Linked DNA regions of Homo sapiens. The protein of the gene in region 2 interacts with the protein of the main gene of each other region in a biochemical or structural test. Each region holds a gene or a part of one and is shown on either strand. Other genes may lie near its edges.

Region 1 (3,833 bases), on a different chromosome or scaffold from region 2:
TGTTTGCATCTGATCATCTTGCAGATCCTGGATATTTAATCAAATTGATGCAGAAGTTTGAAAGACAAGCAGCAGTAGGAAATTTTTGTTTCAAGCTTGACTTTTCTGACAATATCCAACAGCTGCTCATATTTTTAAAAATTAGAAACATTCACTGAGAAACGTTAAAAACTTAAAAGCAAATACTGTGTTATAATGAGAATAGGTAATAACATATCATTGATGCTACACTTTACATATTATTGCACCATTATTCTGAGGTAATCATATGCCGAACAGATTACTGCACAAAGTAATGCTTTAGGGGTGTAGTTTTTATGGGAATGAACATGTCTGGCCTGAAATTAGAAAAAAAATTGGAGCCATAATCTTTCTAATCTATGCTTGCTTATGAGAAATTCTAGGTATATTTATGTCAGGCCAAACTATTTGCTACAGCAAACCGGTTAACCTGACATCTGAGATAGTCTTTAAAGTGTTTAAGTTTGGTATACAATGCACTTGTGTGTGTATATGACTCATCCTAAAATGGATGGATGTGTGTAAAAAAATTGTAATCCAATGCTTAAATGAATTTGTGAAGCACAAATAAGTGAAACACTAAGATGTTTCAGAGCATAGTTTGAAAATCCCTGTGCTCGATCACCAAAGTCACTTCCAACAGTAAAATTCTGTGTATTTTAAAAGTTCTTTTTCTATTCCCTGCACATGCAAAATTCATATAATTTAGCTGCTTTTTAGTAGTATTTGGATAGAAATTGTTTATTAAATTTAAAGTTGAGGCTCTGCTGGTTATATGTTAGCACTCTAGATGTTTTCAAGTAAATCCTTTAGTAATATGAGTGTTTAGTCTCTGCTTGACATTGTTATTGGATATATGACGGTGATCCAGACAAGTCTCCACCTTCATTAATGTAACATTCTGGAGGAGGAGACAGACAGTAAACAAATAAATAAACATAATTTCAGGTAATGGTAACTTAGGAAAAAATAAAGGGGGATAAAGGTACAGCAATTGATTAGAAATGGAAAAAAGATTAAGTAGGGTGATGAGAGAAGACTTCTGTGGAGGTATCAGTTGAGCAGAAAGGAGTAAGCCATGCAGAAATGTGGTTGAATGGTTTTCCAGGCAGAAGTAATAGAAGGCCCTGAGATAGGGTCAAGTTTTGTATGTTTGAAGATAAGAAATTTCATAAACAATTACTTAGTGCTTTCTGCATAAATGGGGGTAAGCTCTAAAGGGGAGAAGAGGTGATTAAAGCATAATGATCTGTGTCTTTCACTTCAGAAAATATTGTGGTGGACCCAGTAATCTGTAATAGGTTTTACAAAGAGCAATAGGAAGGAGGGATTATTTTTTATTAAGGTGCCTTGAAATTGTTTTCTACATCAGATGAATTGCAGGGGTTGAGGGGTGGTCTGTCTGGAGTACTGGAAAATGACATAGGAAAGCAAACTGAAAACTTTCCTTAATTCATGTGTTTATGTAGAATAATAAAACCTATACTTTTCTTAGAAATTAGTAATAAGTTTCATATTTAATTAGATTTTCTTGTACAGTCCAATAAATGTTACTTTGTGCTGTGCACTATTATAGTTGCACTGCGTAATTCCTCAAGTTAAATTTTTGTCATACTGTAGAAACATCCTAGAGTAGAGTAACTTTGTTTCAGGGAGTTAATGAGTTGGCTTCAAGGAGGTGATAAGTGAGCTCTGGGTTCTGAAGGGTGATTTGTAGTTAACTAGGTGGGGGAGGGTAGGGAATCAGCATTGTAAATGCACAAATCCTAGGAAAATGTTCTAGATTTGGAGAATGGTGAGGTAATCCTCCATAGCCCTTGATGGAATTCTGGGACCTCATAGGAGAAGTTAGTTGAAGGAATGAAGTAGCCACAGTATGAGGTCTTATCTTTTATGTGATGAGGGAACCATTAACCATTAGGAGGGGAAAAAAAAGCCAGTGAGATTGATAAGCAGATTCGTGTTTCAGGGGAAAGTTTAGATTCCACAGTCGATTTACAATTAAAATTATAAGCTTAATGGTGTATGTTTATGACATTTTTGAAAGATTATTTTCTCTCCATTAAACAAATTGAGTACTTTGCATTCATATAAGCAGGATTTTTATTTGTTAAGAACTGTATGACTTTGAAACTCTGTAGTCTATCTTTTAGAGAACTTGTTATATATGTAAATGAATGCCAACTGTTCAAGATTTTTCCGTTACTGGGGTGGAATTTTTGTATACGTTTTGGGGCAGGCAAAGTTTGAGTATTATCATCTGATGTAATGTGTTAGGCATGAGATTTAACATTCTTGGATAAATTGAAATAATACCAAGAAAATCTAAATCAGTGATAAAATCCCTACATAGGTGCTGATATTTATGTTATGTTACTAGAAGTGCTTATTTTACAATGCTATGATATGTGTTTGTGTGTTTCTCAAAATATATAACACTTGGATATATTAGGTTGCTAGCATTATCTGTTAATTGACATGCAGAAACAAATCCTAAATTAATGTTTTTAAAGAGAAAGAATTGCTTCTCTGAGAATGTAGTTTCAGCAAGTTATTTTTATTTTTATTTATTTATTTCTTTTTTTGAGACAGGTCTCACTTTGTCACCCAGGCTGGAATGCAGTATCATGATCACGGTGCACTGCAGCCTTGACCTCCTGGGCTTAATCAATCCTCCCACCTAAGCCTCCTGAGTAGCTGGGACTACAGGCGCATGCCACCATGCCCGGCAAATTTTTGTATCTTTTGTAGAGACAGGGTTCCTCCATGTTGCCCAGGGTGGTCTTGAACTCCTGCGCTCAAGCCATCTGCCTGCCTCATCTTCCCAAAGTGCTGGGATTACTGGCCTAAATTATTGCTTTTATTGTATGCATTATATACTATTTTATCATAACAAAAGTTAATGGTTCAACTATGGCATTTAGAGCTGCCCACGTAGCCTGATTGTCTATTTAGTTCACTTTTGACTGAGTAAAATGGAGCTGATCTATCTGCTATTAAAGAGAGTTATATTCTGAAATTTTACATGATGTTCATAATGCCTGGAACTAACCAGCCTGAAATGGAATCACCGTTGTACTGTTTTCAATTGGCTAGGTGACTTATTCTCCCTATACTTCAGTTTTCTCATTTGAAAAATGTAGATAAAAATAAATAAATAAAAACAAAGAAAAATGTAGATAAATAACAATACTTACCCAGTAGAACTGATGTAAGGATTAAAGTTTTTTGTGGGTTTTTTGTTCGTGTTCGTTTTGGAGTGGGACTTGTTAGGTTAAAGAGGAGCTTCTGGGGTATACAAGAATTAGCCACAATTTATTTCATAGAGTGCACTATACTCTTTTTTGTATCAGATTCGTAAATGTAAACAAGAATGCAGTCTTGCTCTTAGAGTCTAAACATGTTTTTCCTACCAGGAATTTTGTTTAGATGACCTTCTGTGAAGTAAGATGTGTAATATTTTGAGTAACATAAATAAATCGTCATATTGCTCTGTCTGTAGTACTTGGCAAAGCACAGGGCACATAATAGGCATTTAATAATTCCTGTGTTAAGTGGGATAAATCTAATGGGTTAGGATTCAGACAGACTGGTGTCTACCTTTTTCAACCTGAATAGTGCAGAGTTAGTTACCTGTAGTAGTTTTTTCTTCTGTGCCTGTTTTCTTCCTTAAAATTAATAAAATATTTTCTTCCCTTAAGTGTATTTAGTAGGTTTAAATATGACCCTGTAAAACTCCTGACAAGTAGGTATTTACTGTTGTTGGTTCCCATGCCATTTCCTTTATTTAGAGCAAAAATTGCAAAAATCCT
Region 2 (4,168 bases):
TCCAAACTAAGTACAGTTTCTTTTCCTTTATTATCAGTTTTAAAACTATTTCAAGAAATGTGTTTTCAGAAATATCACTTCACATTATGTCCTAATAAAGTACTCCACTATTCTCTTGATTAAAATTATCTGTTACAATTTAGGTGGCCTAATTTTAGAGGACATCCAATCTCTTCTCTTCTGCCTTAGTCTCATTCTGGTCAGGTACTTATAATATTATCTTATTATCACATTTTAATTATTAAACAATGAAATTTCCAAAACAATATCCCACAGAATTACTGTTTGTTCAGTAACAATGTTACACTACTATGGTTGCTTTTCACATACAATGTTTACTCCGTATTCAAGTTTCAGATAAGTCAACTATAAACTGAAGTTCTGTTTTTGAGGCATTTCCTGGTATACTAGGCAGTGCATTAGAAAAGAGATTATATTGCATTTAGGCTACAATAATTATCTTTTAACCATCTATGCATAATTAACAACCATTCAAAAAGAAAGTGCAAAAGTGCAAAAGAGAGAGAACAAAACAGTTTCTACACATGTAATGCATATTATAGGATATAAATCTAGACAACTAAAAACAATCGCCAACAATATCCTTCTGAGCATTAAATGACACCACCAATTTTGTTTTATATGTATTCTTTCTTCTCAAGTATTCAAAGAATGCAATAGACATTATCTTGTTAATTTGCAAATTTTTCAGGAGATTAGGATATTATTTTTTCACAAACCAGAAAACAAGATACTACCATTACCTTTGTATAATTTTTCAATAATAGAGCCAAAATAACAACAATTCTAGCTAATCTCACCTGGGATCTTAGTACTACAAGTTTATTTTTATGAGTTAGAAATAGTATCACTCATGAGAAACAATGCCAAAATTATTACACTAATAAATTATGTTAAAGGCCTAATGAAGAAATACTTCAACAACTATGAGGTAACACGCTAGCTGTAGGCATGAGGAACGTTTATATTGGCTCTTCTGGGTGTATACATTAAAAGCAAAATCATAAAGGAATCATGCAAAAATCCAGTTGCCCATGCAAGCACCCCAGAGTCTAATCCTCTCCTCTCAGTTCTGTTGTCAGGCCACAGTAGTGTGGAGACTTGTAGGCTGCTGTCCTTGTTGTAATGAATGGGAAGAGGTTGACAGTGGCATGGTCGAAACCTTCACCTCTTCTTCCCCTGTGGAAAAGTCAGTCATGGTCTAGTTATGGGTGACTAGATTTGTTAACAGTCCCTTTAAAAATGATTTCAATATTTGGAATACTGATACATATATAAAATACATGCTTAATGTTTGGAATCCAGGTGTGAAACAAGACATGAATTTTAAAATATAAACTTATCAAGTACTTGGAAAGTAGTTATATTCTAAATATATCCTGAGTAATATTGTTTCAGAGATAAGAACAAATACAATAGATTTAGATTATAAACATACTACCAAAAAAAAAAAAAAAAAAAAAGACCAGGAAAGCCATTCTTTTCCAAGCCAATTGGACCCTTATAGATACTCCTAGTAAATGGTAAATATTAATAGTATTTTGTGAAAAAATTAAACCTTGATTTACAGAAGTGAAAACTGATTTTTAAAAGAGAAAAATTACAAATCCATGTTTTGAAAGCATAAATTATGTACTAGAAAAAAATGAAAGCTATAAATATTAACTAGTAAATTAACATACAGCATCTGAAAATTCAAGTTTACCTTTGAAGTAATTGAAAAATAGTAAAATGTTAACAGTACAATGATCCAATTGACTGAAAATGAGATGACTACTTCTAGGTCAGAGAATTATAGATGAATGAGATCGGTTCTCCTGATTATAACTGAAAATTATTTGACTACAAGTGACTTGTTTCACACATGACTCAAAATTCAATCAAGTCACTGTTAAAACAGTTCATATAGAAACAAAGAAAATTTAAAGAAAAATGCCCTCTCAAAAGTAAAGTTTAAATTAACAAAAACATGAAAAAAAAATCCAATCCTAAACAGTTTCAAATATTTTTTGAGGTATATCTTGAAACAACAATGCTTACTGACTTATGTTTTCCAAATAATTTTTAACATCATGGAATAAAAACAACTTGGCAGAATATTTTTTTAAAACAAATCTGCAAAATTACATGTGGAAGGATAACTGACAAAGCAGAAAAAGAGTCTGTCAATCCATATAACAGGTGATTTTGTAGTTTTTCAGTAAATTGGCAAAGATTCTTATAAACCCCAAGAACATAGCAATGAGGCTCTGTAAAGCAAATTTTAGACTAGAGTTCTTAGCAAGAAAATGATATTAATAAGGACTAAGAAACAGACTGATTTCTATCAAGTCGATACACTTTATTCTATTTTGTAACAATAGGCCATATACCCCTGAGCTGGGCCAATTTGTCTCATGAGTTGATACTGTTGATAAAAAGGGACTTCCAAGTGTGTGAGAGCAAAAACAATTGCCACGGGAAGAAAGCCAAGTTAAAGCACATGCCAGTGATCTTCATTTATGAAGGAGGGCATCGTTGTAGTGCAAAAACATTTCCATTGTTGAATTTGAGATCTAAGTTCTTACCCTAATTCCACTACTAATTGAATATGTGACCTTTAACAAATTATTTAAGCTTTCTGGAACACAGCTTTGCTATTCCTAAAATGAAGGAATTGGACAAAACAAAGTCACGTTTTAGGACAAGGTAAATCACTTTGTAGAAAGAAGGCATATGGTTCCAATAATAATAAAAAAAAAGATCTGAATGAATTTACTGTAACTGCCCACGAATCAAAATTTCCCCCAAGAATATTTATGTCAAAAATATTTCTAAACTTAGTAAACCAAATGCTGCTAAAAAGGTTTCACCTAATTAAGGAAATAACTACTAATTTTAAACACAAAAACAGTTTTCAATTAGATCAAAAAAAAAGGAAGCTGCATTTCTGTCAAACCTCTGGCAACTGTTTTTCCCATGATAGGTTTCAGATATATCAATCTTTAATAATTCACTGAACAAACCAAAAATAAAAATTTAAGTACAAATGTATAGTAAGTAGACATTCTATCTGTATGACATGTAGGTGACTGCCATCTCTGATTTGCTCTTACAGGTCAGAGACCATATTTTGCTCTACATATTTAGAGAATAAATATATATGCCTTTCCAGAGTGTAGAATTAGTTTAAAATATTGTCTAAGTATATCTTAAAGTAGCAGGTCCCACTGAAACAGGTATGTACTCTCTCCATTACTGAAGCATTTAGTGACAGCTGCCCTGTGTAAGGTATCATGATAACTGCTAAAAGATACAAAGTTGAATCCTTGCCAATAGTTCAACTCAGGTGCAAGTGAGTTAGAACAGGTGCAAGTGAGTTACAACAGGTGCAAGTGAGTTACCTAGGTATTAAATTGCTTCAAATTAGACATAGTTAAGATGTATATATAGTTTTCCAGATTTTCACTTTCTGTCATTTCTAATAGTTACTGAAAATCCTAAATCTTCTGGCTACAATTACACAGCTATTCTGCTCTGAGGCTTAGCACATTCAGTTTTCTGGGGCATCTACCAAATATTTATAATCCATGAGAGGATTCTGGTGTGTGAGACTCTTGATAAAAATTTTTAAATTTTGGTACATTAAAACTAAAATTTCTCTAGTCATCAGAGCCTTAAAAATAACCTAATAATAAGCTTAACCATAAGTCACCATTTAAATACCAAGCAAGTCTGCATAGCCTGAAATTGAAAATCCAAAATAAACTCTCCCACCCCCTACCAAATAGTACAACGATTCAGAACCTAAAGTTGGTGACTACATTTTTAGCATCTCTGAAAAAAAAAGGTTTTAATGCTCTATGGTTGAGTATATGGTAAAAGTTTTAAAAATTAAAACAAAATCCCCAAAGATAGGACCATAATTTAATGTCACATTTTTTCCATAAAGCATCTACTTTAGACGAAGATTTTAAATGACTAACACAAGGACAACTAAACTCACTAATCAGCGATTTCTCATTACCAGTGCAGCATTCTGAGAATAACTATTGGTTTGAAATATATGGGTTAAAACTACTCTTCAGTGTTAAGGGATAATATGATGACTATGAAATTGGAAGAAAATCAAAGATCGTCATGTAATAAGTCAAATAAAAGCACAAAA

What was found. Proteins that work in one complex are often made in the same cells at the same time.
Region 1: the proteins of CNOT4 (region 2) and CNOT2 form a complex in vitro, tested with the Homo sapiens proteins (one study listed by BioGRID).

What each region holds. Positions count from the first base shown.
Region 1 is NC_000012.12:70,249,600-70,253,432, forward strand, and holds part of CNOT2 (CCR4-NOT transcription complex subunit 2), read left to right. Parts: intron 1-3,833. UniProt on the Homo sapiens protein: Component of the CCR4-NOT complex which is one of the major cellular mRNA deadenylases and is linked to various cellular processes including bulk mRNA degradation, miRNA-mediated repression, translational repression during translational initiation and general transcription regulation.
Region 2 is NC_000007.14:135,387,695-135,391,862, forward strand, and holds part of CNOT4 (CCR4-NOT transcription complex subunit 4), read right to left. Parts: intron 1,201-4,168; coding exon of another isoform or gene 1,100-1,200; exon of another isoform or gene 1-1,099. UniProt on the Homo sapiens protein: Has E3 ubiquitin ligase activity, promoting ubiquitination and degradation of target proteins. Involved in activation of the JAK/STAT pathway. Catalyzes ubiquitination of methylated RBM15.